Linked DNA regions of Homo sapiens. The protein of the gene in region 3 purifies or fractionates together with the protein of the main gene of each other region. This does not show direct contact. Each region holds a gene or a part of one and is shown on either strand. Other genes may lie near its edges.

Evidence for each region. Proteins that work in one complex are often made in the same cells at the same time.
Region 1: the proteins of GAK (region 3) and XPR1 purify together in Homo sapiens (affinity purification with mass spectrometry; one large-scale study listed by BioGRID and IntAct). This does not show direct contact.
Region 2: the proteins of GAK (region 3) and BMP2K purify together in Homo sapiens (affinity purification with mass spectrometry; one large-scale study listed by BioGRID and IntAct). This does not show direct contact.
Region 4: the proteins of GAK (region 3) and PIK3C2A purify together in Homo sapiens (affinity purification with mass spectrometry; one large-scale study listed by BioGRID and IntAct). This does not show direct contact.

Annotation. Positions count from the first base shown.
Region 1 is NC_000001.11:180,824,022-180,827,521, forward strand, and holds part of XPR1 (solute carrier family 53 member 1), read left to right. Parts: intron 1-731; coding exon 732-922; intron 923-1,143; coding exon 1,144-1,323; intron 1,324-3,500. UniProt on the Homo sapiens protein: Inorganic ion transporter that mediates phosphate ion export across plasma membrane.
Region 2 is NC_000004.12:78,782,850-78,786,349, forward strand, and holds part of BMP2K (BMP-2-inducible protein kinase), read left to right. Parts: intron 1-3,500. UniProt on the Homo sapiens protein: May be involved in osteoblast differentiation.
Region 3 is NC_000004.12:890,817-894,316, forward strand, and holds part of GAK (cyclin-G-associated kinase), read right to left. Parts: intron 3,194-3,500; coding exon 3,058-3,193; intron 2,674-3,057; coding exon 2,561-2,673; intron 1-2,560. UniProt on the Homo sapiens protein: Associates with cyclin G and CDK5. Seems to act as an auxilin homolog that is involved in the uncoating of clathrin-coated vesicles by Hsc70 in non-neuronal cells. Expression oscillates slightly during the cell cycle, peaking at G1.
Region 4 is NC_000011.10:17,162,987-17,166,486, reverse strand, and holds part of PIK3C2A (phosphatidylinositol 4-phosphate 3-kinase C2 domain-containing subunit alpha), read left to right. Parts: intron 1-3,500.

The DNA.
Region 1 (3,500 bases), on a different chromosome or scaffold from region 3:
ACTCTGTGAGGTAGATATTACTATATCCAGTTTAATAATGGAGTAAATGAAGCCAAAGAGAGGTTTTGTCATGCCGGATCCCCAAATGACAGAACTGATCACATGATTCTAAGCCACTTCACCATGATTCTTTGTAATCTAAAAAACTAATAGAACAATGGGATGACATGCTGAAAGTCAAGTTTTGGGAAATTATTCTAGTGACATTCTGCAGAGTAAAATGAAGACGAGAAAGAACCCACAGGCGACTTTTTAAGGCTCTTAAAATAATCTAGGTTTGGCCAGGCGGGGTGGTTCATGCCTGTAATCCCAACACTTTGGGAGGCCAAGGTGGGTGGATCACGAGGTCAGGAGATGAAGACAATCCTGGCCAACATGGTGAAACCCTGTCTGTACTAAAAATACAACAATTAGCTGGGCGTGGTGGTGCGTGCCTGTAATCCCAGTTACTCGGGAGACTGAGGCAGGAGAATCGCTTGAACCAGGGAGTCGGAGGTTGCAGTGAGCCGAGATCACGCCATTGCACTCCAGCCTGGCAACAGGGTGAGACTGTCTCAAAAAAATAAATAGGTAGATAGATAGATAGATAGATGATAGATAATCTAGGTTTAGGTTTTATTTATGAAAAATTTCTATGCCAGGGCTATATCATTGAGAATGAAGACAAAAGATTATTAATTCAAGGGAAGTTATGAATTTTATAACTGACCAATATCTTAATATTCTTTCAGCTGTATTTAAACTTGAAACAGATAGAAGTATATGGCCCTTGATAAGAATCTATCGGGGTGGCTTTCTTCTGATTGAATTCCTTTTTCTACTGGGCATCAACACGTATGGTTGGAGACAGGCTGGAGTAAACCATGTACTCATCTTTGAACTTAATCCGAGAAGCAATTTGTCTCATCAACATCTCTTTGAGGTAATCAAAGCAAGACATAACACCTCATGAATATAGTTTGCATTAGCTATATAGCTATCTGGTTTAGTGGGTACTTAAATCCATCCTCTACTTGAAGAGGATTATTAGCTTAATAACTAATCATGTTTCTTACTTTTGTTTTATTAAAGATATTTTAAGTAATGGTAAAAGTAAAAATAACAATTTTTCTCTATCTTTCTGTCTTCCCCATCCTTTACTAGATTGCTGGATTCCTCGGGATATTGTGGTGCCTGAGCCTTCTGGCATGCTTCTTTGCTCCAATTAGTGTCATCCCCACATATGTGTATCCACTTGCCCTTTATGGATTTATGGTTTTCTTCCTTATCAACCCCACCAAAACTTTCTACTATAAATCCCGGTTTTGGCTGCTTAAACTGCTGGTAAGTCCAGAAACTTGTGTACCACTTTTAGAGTGGCATATTGGTTATTGACTTCCTCTAAGATAAAACCAAGGCTGCTAGGTTGTACAACTGCAGAGGCCGTGGTTCACATTATAGTTTATGTGAGTGGAGGCCCTGGGAAAAAGTACTCACGTATATTTTCCTCCTGAGATCGAGTATCAGGTGGCCAAATATTGAGATGATTTTGTAAATTATAAACATTTTTTACTTCGTTTAACTAGCTGTGATAAGATGTAGAACTTTGTAAGTTTCCTTCCCCCAAAAAAATGTGGTAAAAGAATTATTTTCCTGTTAAGTTGATGTGAGTATCAACCGAACATTTTATTTTAGGAAAGATTTGTTCTCTAAAAGCAGTAGGAATATCTTACCAGATTATCAAGTTTAATTTGAAAAATTGACTTTGGGCTGGGCGCGGTGGCTCACGCCTGTAATCCTAGCACTTTAGGAAGCCAAGGCGGGTGGATCATCTGAGGTCAGGAGTTTGAGACCAGCCTGACCAACATGGTGAAACCCCGTCTCTACTAAAAATACAAAATTAGCTGGGGGTGGTGGCCCATGCCTGTAATCCTAGCTACTAGGGAGGCTGAGGCAGGAGAATCGCTAGAACCCCAGAGGTGGAAGTTGCAGTGAGCCGCGATTGTGCCATTGCATTCCAGCCTGGGCAACAAGAGCAAAACTCCATCTCAAAAAAAAGAAAAAGAAAAATTGACTTTGATTCTTGTTTATAATAAGTTCTTTTTTTCTTCCACTTTACCTGTCTCTTAATGATCTCAAAATCATTTAGCCTCAGCAGTGAAATAAAATTTCCTGCAAAACTGTAAAGCTTTCTTCTGTAAAGATAACTCCGGAAGGGGACTTCTGTTTACTTGTAAATTGAGCCAGCTCTTTTTGAAAATCATTTGAGGCCAGGTACAGTCGCTCATGCCTATAATCCCAGTATTCGGGAGGCTGAGGTGAGTGGATCCCTTGAGCCCAGGAGTTTCAGACCAGCCTGGGCAACATGGTGTAAACCCTGTTTACAAAAATTAAAAAATTAGCTGGGTGTGATGGTGCACACCTGTAGTCCCAGATACTTGTGACGCTCAGGTGAGAGGATTGCTTGAGCCAGGAACGTCAAAGCTGCAGTGAACCATGTTAGTGCCGCTACACTCCCAGCCTGGGCAACAGACTGAGACCCTATCTCTAAAGGAAAAAACAAAGAAAGAAACAAAGAAAGTAAATCAATTGAGAAAACTTTCATATGATTATTTCTTAGGTTATGAATTACAGCTAACAATAAAGATTAGTGATTAAATTGACCAATCTCTATAAAAACTTTCAGAATTGCTCTATTTTCTCACCTCTTTTTCACTTTATAAGTATACGTCCTTGAAAACTGCAGTTCCTATTGTTTTTCTTTTGTATGCCCCTTATGTTAGCAAAGGTTTTTTTGTTCTTAGCCAAACATAACAATTTTTTTTTAATCTGAAGACATAAAATATGGCTTTCTATTAAGAAAAACTGTAGAACCAGGTGCAGTGGCTCACGCCTGTCGTCCCAGCACTTTGGGAGGCCGAGGTGGGTGGATCACCTGAAGTCCGGAGTTCAAGACCAGCCTGGCTAACATGGCAAAACCCCATCTCTACCAAAAATATAAAAATTAGCCGAGTGAGGTGGCACGTGCCTGTAATCCCAGCTACTCAGGAGGCTGAGGCAGGAGAATCGCTTGAACCCAGGAAGTGGAAGTTGCAGTGAGCCAAGATGGTGCTGCTGCACTCCAGCCTGGACGACAGAGTGAGACTCCTTCTCAAAAAAAAAAAAAAAAAAAAAAAAGGGGGTCTCCTTTGTTGCCCAGGCTTGTCTCAAACCTCCTGGCTTCAAGTGTTCCTCCCGCCTTGGCCTCCCAAAGTGCTGGGATTACAGGCATGAGCCACTGTGCCTGGCCATAAAATTATTTTTAAATGAGACTTTGGAAGATTCAGAAAACTCAGGTTTTACTATGATTACGTAATTACAGTAACAGGATAATATAGTTGTGTACATTGTGTGCTAAGTGGGCATTTCCCCAGTGTATCCTTTGTTTAAATAGCAAGCTGTGATTCATGCATGACTAGTTACTCCTATTAGCAGAATGATTGCCCATTGAGTAGATATTTATTTGTGCATCTGCTGTGTTT
Region 2 (3,500 bases), about 78 Mb from region 3:
GCATTCAGTTGTCCAGTAGTACTTACTCAGCACCCTTTTTTGTTGTTGTTTAATTAAGCTCTTAGAAAACATTGTTTCCTCTTCTGAAACAAGGAGTTAATATCTATTATGAAGATTAGAGAAGATAATGTGTGACAGTACCTGACAGTGCATTGCCAAATCTCTTCATAACTATGAGTGAACTTTTAAGTTCCGATTTGGTTATACGCTTTCAGTGAAATCTGATTTGGAAATTATAGTGACTTTATTATATATTTGGTATCACATTTATCCTGAATAAGTATCACATTTGTGTTTGAAAAATATCTGAATAGTTTGTTAGATAATTATGTGTCCCTCAGCCATATTGAATTTTCAAGTTTCAATCAGCTATATAAAATTTTGACCTATATAGTAGCATATGATTTCACTATAAAATGGAAATTATTTGCAACAAAGGACACTATATACAATATTAACAAATGGTTCTTTTTTGGGTTGTTTATGTTATTATTGTAGTGATAGCTCCTAGGATGTAATTTTGATTGTCCGTTAATGTATTTCCTCTAGAGGTAGTAGTTTTATTCAAGGACAAGCTACTGACACTAAAACAATTATTCTAAATTTTCAGTATTCCAAAAAAACAGTGGAAATTTATAATGCATTTATCTCCAGTAAAGGTGCTAAATTGTACAGGATGGGCATGGTGGCTCACGCCTGTAATCCCAGCACTTTGGGAGGCTGAGACAGGTAGATCACTTGAGGCCAGGAGTTCGAGACCAGCCTGGCCAACAGGGTGAAACCCCATCTCTACTAAAAACACAAATATTAGCCGGGCATAGTGGCACGTGCCTATAATAACAGCTACTCATGAGGCTGAGGCAGGAGAATCCCTTGAGCCCAGGAGGCAGAGGTTGCAGTAAGGTGAGATAGAGCCATTGCACTCCAGCCTGGGTGACACAGCAAGACGCTGTCTCAAAATAAATAAATAAATAAATAAATAATAAATAAAAATAAAAGTGCTAAATTGTACAAACATGCCAAATATCTTTGCTTTTAGGCTGTAGTCAACTATTGTGGTTAATACTGACATTCTCATGCTGGGCAGATTGAAAAGGCTATGTCTTCGATATTTTAAAAATAATGAAAATGAATTAATATTTGTTAGTATGTTTCATCATGGGGTGCACAGTAGGGAAACTTGGAAAAGGTCCTTGATGTTGTCAATGTTAGAGAATGTACTAGAAAGTGAGACGGATGTCCTTATGTTGATCCTGGGTCTTATATAGTGTTCTTTCTGATCTTGTATATTATCTTGGTTTTCTTTCACCATTTCCCTCCTATTTTTTTGTCAGAACTTGAAGTAGTTTCATATACATCCAATAGAGCTCATTTGGTAGTTATCAAAATGATTAAAGCCTTGACTTGGGATTCCAAAGTTAAGAGTCTTGAACTACCATTTCAAAGCTGCCACACTTTTCTAGTGGTCGGGTATAATATTTCATCTCCAAAAGATTGGGACTGTTTATTCCTTTGTTTTATCTTGCATGCATCTGGTGAACCATTCATCTACCCACAGCCTGCTATTTTTAGGGGACTAAGTTGGGAAGTTGAGTGGTTAATGACTGAGCTGTTTTAAATAGCTGGGCACTTAGTTAATTTGGAGATTCTTTGTCTATGTGTATCAGCTTTACAAATGAGGTCAGTCAGCACATGTCTGCTAACTGTTTCAAAAGTCTCTCTCTGCAGGAAAGTGGTTGTAAGGCCTTTTCTACAGAGAGACTTTGTTTTTGGTTTATCCTAGTCTTGTAGAATTGCAGTAACATTAGAGGCATTTTGCAGTAAGTATTATTTTAAAATATGGAATGATTGTTGTTACTAGTTTGCCCATTTTAACATTTTTAATTATCTTTGAAATAGTGCCTTCTTGGACGCATCTATCGGGGAAAAATACCAGCTGGTAATCCCTGTTCTGCCTCTAACTTGCATTGTGACGTTTTGACTTCAGTTTCCTCAAGAAAAAAATGAAGTGGAAAAAATGAATTTGTAACATCTTTTTCCATTTTAGTATTCTTGGATTCTGTCTATGTAACTGATTTTAACTGCTCTTTTAGATAAATGAGGAGCATGGGACAGGGAGGAATAGCAATGAACAATTTCAGGATTGAGACCATAATGAAAGGATTGTGTTTGATCGTTATACAATTTGAGTTCTTTGACAGACTTCACAATGGAATGGCAATTTATTTTTTAATCCTAAAGTATGAAATTATTTTTATTTTATTTTATTTTATTTTTTCAAGACGGAGTCTTGCTCTGTTGCCCAGGCTGGAGTGCAGTGCTGCAGTTGTGGTTCACTGCAACCTCTGCCTCCTGGGTTCAAGTGATTCTCCTGCCTCAGCCTCCCAAGTAGCTGGGATTACAGGTTCTTGCCACCACACCTGGCTAATTTTTGTATTTTTAGTAGAGACAGGGCTTCACCGTGTTGGCCAGGCTGGTTTCTTAACTTCTGACCTCAGGTGATCTGCCCACCTTGGCTTCCCAAAGTGCTGGGATTACAGTCATGAGCCACTGCGCCCGGCCTAAAATTATTTTTTAATCATTGGAAAAAGGTCTTTTCTAAGAAGTTGCCTTACATGCTAGTCCTTGAGATCCGGGTAGAAGCTCAAATTAAATTGTGTGACATTTCAGAATACTATTTAGTTTCAGTGGGCATGCCACCTTAATTGCTTATTTTACTATCTTGATTGTGTTCTCTAAGAGACTCATGCACAATATATGTATTTTAGAGAGTATTAGTAACAAAACAAAACCTTTTTATTCAAAAAGAATATATGAGGAGGAGGTATGACAGTACTTTCTCTGATGAAGTTTACAGATACAAAGTTTACCCTTGATATGTGTGGGAAATTGGGTACCTTTTGTTTCCAATGCTGTCAGCCCTAATTTGGGTCCTTAATACATCTCGTTTAGAGAATTATATTAGCATTTGGACTGTTCTTTCAGACTCTTTCCTTGCCAAACCAATTCTTGTATTCCTTCCAGTTTATTCTTCCTAAAATGGACTTATGCTCATGTCACTCTCTTACTTGCCTAACCAAGTAAAGTACAAACTCGTTACTCTAGGATTCAGGACCCCCTGACCTGAACCTCCAGTTCAGTATGACCTCCAACCTACCTCTCCAGCCTTAATCTCTTACTCTTACTCCCTACTTATATTACACTGATGTGCTTGGTATTTTCTGCACTTCTCTCAAGCTTTCTGCTATCGTCTGAATGTTTGTGACTCCTCCCGCAATTCATATGTTGAAATCCCAACGCCCAAGGTGATGCTATTTAGTGATGGGGCCCTTGGGAAATGATTGGGTCATGAGAGCCCTCATGAATGGAATTAATGCCCTTATAAAAGAGGCCCCAGAGAGATCCCTCATCCCTTGCACTACATAAGGTTAGAGTGAGAAGATGGCCATCTGTGAGGAAACAAGCCCTCTCCAGGCACTGAATTTCCCAGCACCTTGCTC
Region 3 (3,500 bases):
CTCACCCCGCGGCCTGCCTCGCTTGGGGCTGTTGCAGGTGCTCAGCACTCCAGCCCAGCTTTTCAGACTCTTGGGCTACAGCTTCTGTTCCTTTTCCTTTTCTCTCTCTTCCCAGTCTGTCCAACCAACATTTTTTTTTTTTTTTTTGGTAGAGACAGAGTCTTGCTCTGTGACCCAGGCTGCAGTGCTGGAGGGCTGTGGCACGATCTCAGCTCACCGCAACCTCCGCCTCATGAGTTCAAGCAATTCTCCTGCCTCAGCCTCCCAGAGTAGCTGGGACTACAGGCATGCGCCACCACGCCTGGCTAATTTGTTTTGTATTTTAGTAGAGATGGGGTTTCACCACGTTGCCCAGGCTGGTCTTGAACTCCTGAGCTGAGGCAATTCGCCTGCCTCGGCTTCCCAAAGTGCTAGGATTACAGGCGTGAGCCACTGCACCCAGGCTTTTTTTCTTTTTTTTTTTTTTGAAACGGAGTCTCACTCTGTCTCCCAGGCTGGAGTGCAGTGGCATGATCTGGGCTCACTGCAGCCTCCACCTCGCATGCCCAACCATATTAAGCAGACACATGGCCTGTCTGTCCCAGGATGTTCCATCACTTCAGCTCCTGGGTTCTGGGGGCCACCCTGTGAGGCTCACTACCTCCTGGGGGCAGTATTTTATTTCATTGTGAACTCAGCTCCATCATGGACTGTGTTTTCTGGGGGAGTCGGTTGGCTTAAGCAGGGGTCTAACGTCTGTCCCCACGGGGTCCCGGCCTAGAAGCACTCAGATGAGAAGCACTGAGGACCCCGCCCCATCACTAGGGGCCTGATTCTGCCCATCTGCCCAGCGGCACCTCCTCCCGCCCCATCAAGAATCCCTCCAGCGCACTCGACAAAGCAAGAGGCCCACACCCCCCTGCGAGCCCACTGTCCTCTGTGACCTCCGGGGGAGTGGGCAGGCATTTTCTGTAAAGAGCCACCAAGCGAGGGGGACACGAGGCCCAGGCTGCTAAAGAGCAGGACGGCCCAGGAGTGATCCCTTCCTGCCGCTCTCTGACAGCCCCAGGGAAGCTTGCTGAGAGGCCACCAGTGACATCAACTCTCCCGCCTCAGAGCGCCCCACACCTCAAAATGCTTCCAGCACCCAGCACCAGGGCTCCCTCTGCTGGTGCACCCACCATGATGGCCGCCAGAGAGGGGCACCACAGCCTCTCCCCGTCTGCACTGGGCTTCCCAGCACTTCCCTGCTCCCAGGTCTCTGTACCCACGCGGCCCCCAAGGAACTGCAAACCCTCCACACAGCCCAAACCTTCCTTGTCCCACAGGGTCCTGTCCTCAGACAGGGACTCCGGGCAGCAGCTCTGACCTTCTCCCCACGCTCCACACCCACCGCCTGGGTCAGCTCCACTGCAGTGGCCCCTGGAAGTTCCGGCTTCCAGCTACCAGGGAGTGGAAACGACCCAAGGGCTGAAAAGGGGACAAAATGCAGGAGCCAAGAGTCCTGGGTCCTTGGACACAGACCCCTGCGAGATCTGCAGAGGGGCCCTGCGTGTCCTGACTGGGCCCTGAGCTGGGATGCCCAGGGGCCTCCCTGCTCCCCGTGGGTGAGGGCCGGGCCGCGTGTCTGCTCTGCCTCGAGGATCTGGTGATGGAGATGCTGCACCCTGTCCACGGCTGGGTCAGAAAAGACTCTGAGGAAAGCATCTTCCAGCCAACACGTGCTGCTCCCTCCCAGGCCTCACACTTCCACAAAGCACACGGCCCTGTGGGCCTCAGTCTCCCAGCCCCCAGGCCCTGATGCTGCCAGCAGCCACCGGTGCCTGGGAGTGGACCCTGGCCAGGCCCAGCCCTGACACAACTGCAACCAGGACGCCCAGAGCTGAGCTGAGGGTCAGAAACACAGACGCAGAGCAACTCAGGACACCCCAGGACGCCCAGAGCTGAGGGCTGGCTGACCTGGCTTGGACACCAGACCCCAGAAACAAAGACACAGGAGCAATTCATGCTGTCCTGTCAGGGGAAGAATCTAGAAAGGCGCCTGCAAACCTCAAGGAGGCCAGAGGAGCGCGTGCAGAGTGCGAAGACCTTGGCAATGGTCCCAGCATGCCCCCGGGGTCTCGGCCCTGGGCTGCGGTGGTGACCCTGCTCCTGCAGGAGCCCAGGGCCCTCAAGAGCTTGTGGCTCCCCACTGAAGTGGGCAGAGACCCCCAGGGTGCAGGGTCCGGACGAAGCAGCACAGCCACATGCCACCCTCCTCTCTGTGGGGGGATTTGGGGCTCACATGTGCCTCCCTCCCCTCTGTGATAGGAAACTTGGGGTTCAGGTGTGCCTCCCGCCCCTCTGTGATAGGAGACTTGGGGTTCACATGTGCCTCCCTCCCCTCTGCGGGGGATCTGGGGCTCACGTGTGCCTCCCTCCCCTCTGTGATAGGAGACTTAGGGTTCACGTGTGCCTCCCTCCCTTCTGCAGGGGATCTGGGGCTCACATGTGCCTCCCTCCCCTCTGCGGGGGATCTGGGGCTCATGTGTGCCTCCTTCACCACTGCGGGGGATTTGGGGCTCACGTGTGCCTCCCTCACCTCTGTGATGGGAGACTTGGGGTTCACGTTGCGGGCGGCCGCGATCTCCTGCAGCTGGTGCACCACCTCGGCGATGGACAGCCGCTCCTCCGGGTTCACCTGCAGCATGGCGCCTGCAGCAGAAGCACAGCGCGCTCGGCCCCACGGTTCCCCAGGCGGGTCAGCACCCCCTGCACTGGCAGAGGTCACAGACCACCAGAGGCCACTCCCTCTACACACATCAGTGACGTCAGAAGCAAGAAGGGAGCGGCAAAGGGAAGAACAAAAACCGAACAAAATGATCAAAAATCACCACTCAGAGCACCGCAAATTCACCAGCGGGGTGGGCGGCAGGGGAGCTCTCTGGAAACCCCCCCCCCAGGGATGTTGTCAAAACTATGGTGACGGGCGGGAGTGGGGCCAGGTGAGCAGTGCCCCAAGGGGAGCGGGGTCTCCAGAGCCACGCGGGGTCTGTGCTCCAGGGTCCTGCCCCACGCACGCATTCCACCGGGACTTACGGATGAGGCTGTGGAAGACCGTGTACTGCGTGTCGTGCGGGGGGATCGAGTACTTCCCATTGACTATTCGAAGTTTCGCTCCATCCTCAAAAGGGTGCTGCCGGAAGCACAGCAGGTACAAGATGCAGCCCAGGGCCTGCGGGGAGAGCAGGGGTGATGCCTAGGCCCACGGGGAGCGCAGGGGTGACGCCTGGGCCTGCGGGGAGAGCAGGGGTGATGCCCAGGCCCACGGGGAATGCAGGGGTGACATCGGAGCCGTGGGGAGCGCAGGGGTGACACTGGGGACTGCAGGGAACACAGGGGTGATATCGGGAACATGGGAAATGCAGGGGTGACACCGGGGCCTGCGGGAACAACAGGGGTGACACCCGGGCCGCGGGGAGCGCAGGGGTGACGTTGGGGCCGTGGGGAGCGCAGGGGTGACGCCTGGGCCTGTGGGGAGT
Region 4 (3,500 bases), on a different chromosome or scaffold from region 3:
CTGAGAGAAATAGATTATCCCAGCTAAGCTGATATTACCATTCCAGATGCAATGTAGTCATCATCTTAAGCAAGTTGAGGTTTCTGGGTAGGTGGGTTATTTACTGTCCAAAGCTCCAAGACTGGGATTCGGAACCCAAGAACTTACATGCTTTTTATCTATGTTGTACATACTCAAACCGAACTCTTTATTTATTATTATTTTTACCAATATGTTGCCAAAGCCAAAGGACTCTTCTGCATTTTTTTTTTAATCACTGAGACAGAAAGCTCACAAGAATCCTATGAGGCCAGAGTATGACCCATCCCTATTTTACAGTTGAGGAAACTGAGATGTAAAGAAGTTAAAAGGAATTACTGTTAATATTTTGGTGTAATAATGGTATTGCAATTAATTAAATGAATCTTATATTTAGAGATGTATACTGTAGAATTTAAAATGTAGTAAAATCAAGTGAGGTATTGGGGTTTGGAGGGCTTATAGATGAAACAAGATTGGCTATATGTTGATAATTGTTGAAGCCGATGATGGATACCTGGGTGTTTATTCTATTATTTACTTTGTGTATATTTGAAAATTTTCATGATAACAAGTTGGAGGTCAAGGAGAGGGCTGCAGAACTCTTTGCAAGCAGCAAAGTTCTGACATTCAAACCCATCTGACTCTAAAAGCCCTCCCTTTTTTTTTTTTTTTTTTTTTTTTTTCACTTTTTTGAGACAGTTTCTCTCTTGTTGCCCAGGCTGGAGTGCAATTGCGTGATCTCAGCTCACCGCAACCTCTGCCTGCTGGGTTCAAGCGATTCTATTGCCTCAGCCTCCCGAGTAGCTGGGATTACAGTCATGCACCACCACGACCGGCTAATTTTGTATTTTTAGTAGAGACGCGGTTTCTCCATGTTGGTCAGATTGGTCTCAAACTCCCGACCTCAGGTGATCTGCCTGCCTCAGCCTTCCAACGTGCTGGGATTACAGGCGTGAGCCACCAAGGTCTGCCAGCCCTCCCTTTTTCAAACTCCAGTGATACAACATGCTATTTTGGAAGGAGTAAGTTCCCTGTCATAGGAGATATTCAAATATGGTTCAAATGGCTTCCCAAATTTAGTTATATGTCACAGTATCCTAGAGAGTTTAGGCCTACTCAGTCCTGATTTGGAGGAAGGGGTGTCAAAGGACAGTATGGAATTTCAGGGGGAAGATAACCAGTTTTTTCAAAACTTTCCCCCTTGGACCTCCATTTGGGACCTCTTGACTAGGTTATTTTAAAGTTTATTCATACTCAGGAGCCTATAAAGTTGGGAAAATGACAAGACAAATAGCAAATGTGAAAATAGAGTACCCTGGGAACAGTTTCTTTTCAGCTCAAAACCCAAAGCACAGGTTGTTAATGCTTTCATTGCGAAACTCAACTTCCTGCCCCTGCTTGACCTTTTTAGTTTAGATTGGTCACTCCTAGTTCAACACATGTGTTCTCCACCCTTTCCTTTGGTGGGGCAGGGGTGTGACACCCATGTAAGTCTCCCTACATTTATTTTTTCTTATGTATTTAAAATATTTGTCACAGTACCATCTTGATATTTTCCTTATTTGGGGTGCTTTCAGAAAGTATCTTGGAGGAATAATGAGGATGGGTGGTTTCCTAAAGATAGGAAGAAGTTTGCCTAGCAAGATCTGGGTAATCAAGTCACATAGGTGTTACAGAGAGCTGCTAGTTGCTCAAACTCTAGGAATTAATTAACTAGGCTGCCAAACAGGATTAGTTTTAGCAGAAACAAGTTCCTAGATCTTAGTTAAAAAATATAGGGGAAGGATTAAAGTAGTAAGCAAATGGATTATGAGAGATATGAGTCAGAAACTGGGTAAGCAATAATATGACTTGATCAGGGGATCAATCAGAGAGTGGAGCTAGATTACTACAGTGTAGCATATCAACAGCTTTACTGATAGCATGCTATCTGAACTGACATGGCTTAGGCTACTTGCCAGTCTTAAGGCAGTCTAACTGCAGCATGGCTGAGGAAGTGTTCATCATTCCATTATACTCTAATCAAACCCCATCTAATAATTTTGTTTGAGTATATCCTAAGAGGGGCCACCAGTAAGGAAACTGAAGTTTGTCTTTTTTTTTTTTTTTTTTAAGACAGGGTCTCACACTGTTTTACCTAGGGTGGAGTGCAGCAGTGCGATCACGGCTCACTGTAGCCTCTACCTCCCATACTCAAGTGATTCTTCTAATGCAGCCTCCTGAGTGGCTGGGACTATAGGTACACGCCACCACACCCAGCTAATTTTTTTGGGTTTTGTGAAGATGAGGTCTCCCTGTGGTGTAAGCCATTGTGCCCAGCCTAGAGTATGTCTTGAAAAGAGAAGACTGTAGTTTTCAGGATCTAGAACGTATGCCATTTGAGGAACTGTTGGAGGCATTTTGTCTGAAGAAGAGAATATTAATTGGAGTTAAATCACTGAATCTGAGTTTCTTTATCTATGAAATAAAGTTGGCTAGACTAGATCCTTTCATAAATAATAGTTAAAATTTGGGAAGTTGCCATGTGGAAGAGGAAGTGGACTTTTTTTTTTTTTTTAAGGTTTTGTATTTTGGACATACATTTTCAAACCAATTCAGGAAGTAGAATACCTGAAAGTCATGGTGCTCTTATAAAACAGGATGAAATGTTGATATACTAATTTTTTCAGTACGTTAAATATATTAAGTATACTACTTTGTGTTACATTAGATGACAATCTGTGCTAGATTATAATAGAAACAACTGGTAGAATGGTGGGTTTGGTGGCTCATGCCTGTAAACCCAGTGCTTTGGGAGGCCGAGGTGGGAGGATTGCTTGAGGCCAAGAATTCGAGACCAATCTGGGGAATGTAGGGAGACCCGTGTCTATAGAAAAAAAAAATAGCTGTGTGTGGTGATGCACGCTGGGACTACAGCTATTCTGTAGTCCCAGCTACTCAAGAAGCTGCAGTAGGAGGATCTCAAGCCCAGGAGTTTGAGGCTGCAATGAGCTATGATGATAAGGCCCTTGTACTCCAGCCAAGGCTACAGAATGAGACCCTGTGTCTAAAAAACAAAGGAATAACTGATAGTAAGGGCTGAAAGTTAAAATACATTGCATAGAAAAACTTAAAATTAAACAAGTCCTATTTGTTTGTTTGTTTTTGTTTGTTTTTTTGAAACAGGGTCTCGCTCTGTCACCCAGGCTCTGGAGTGCAGTGGCGTGATCTCGGCACACTGCAACCTCCACCTCCCAGGTTCAAGTGATTCTCCTGGCTCAGCTTCCCGAGTAGCTGGGACTACAGGTGCATGCCACCATGCCCTGCTAATTTTTGTATTTTTAGTAGAGTTGGGGTTACACCATGTTGACTAGGCTGGTCTCGAGCTCCTGACCTCAAGTGATCCACCCGCCTCAGTCCCCCCAAGTGCTGGGATTATAGGCGTGGCCACCGTGCCTGGCCAAACAAGTCCTATTTGTTTATATATTTTTTTCTGTGAA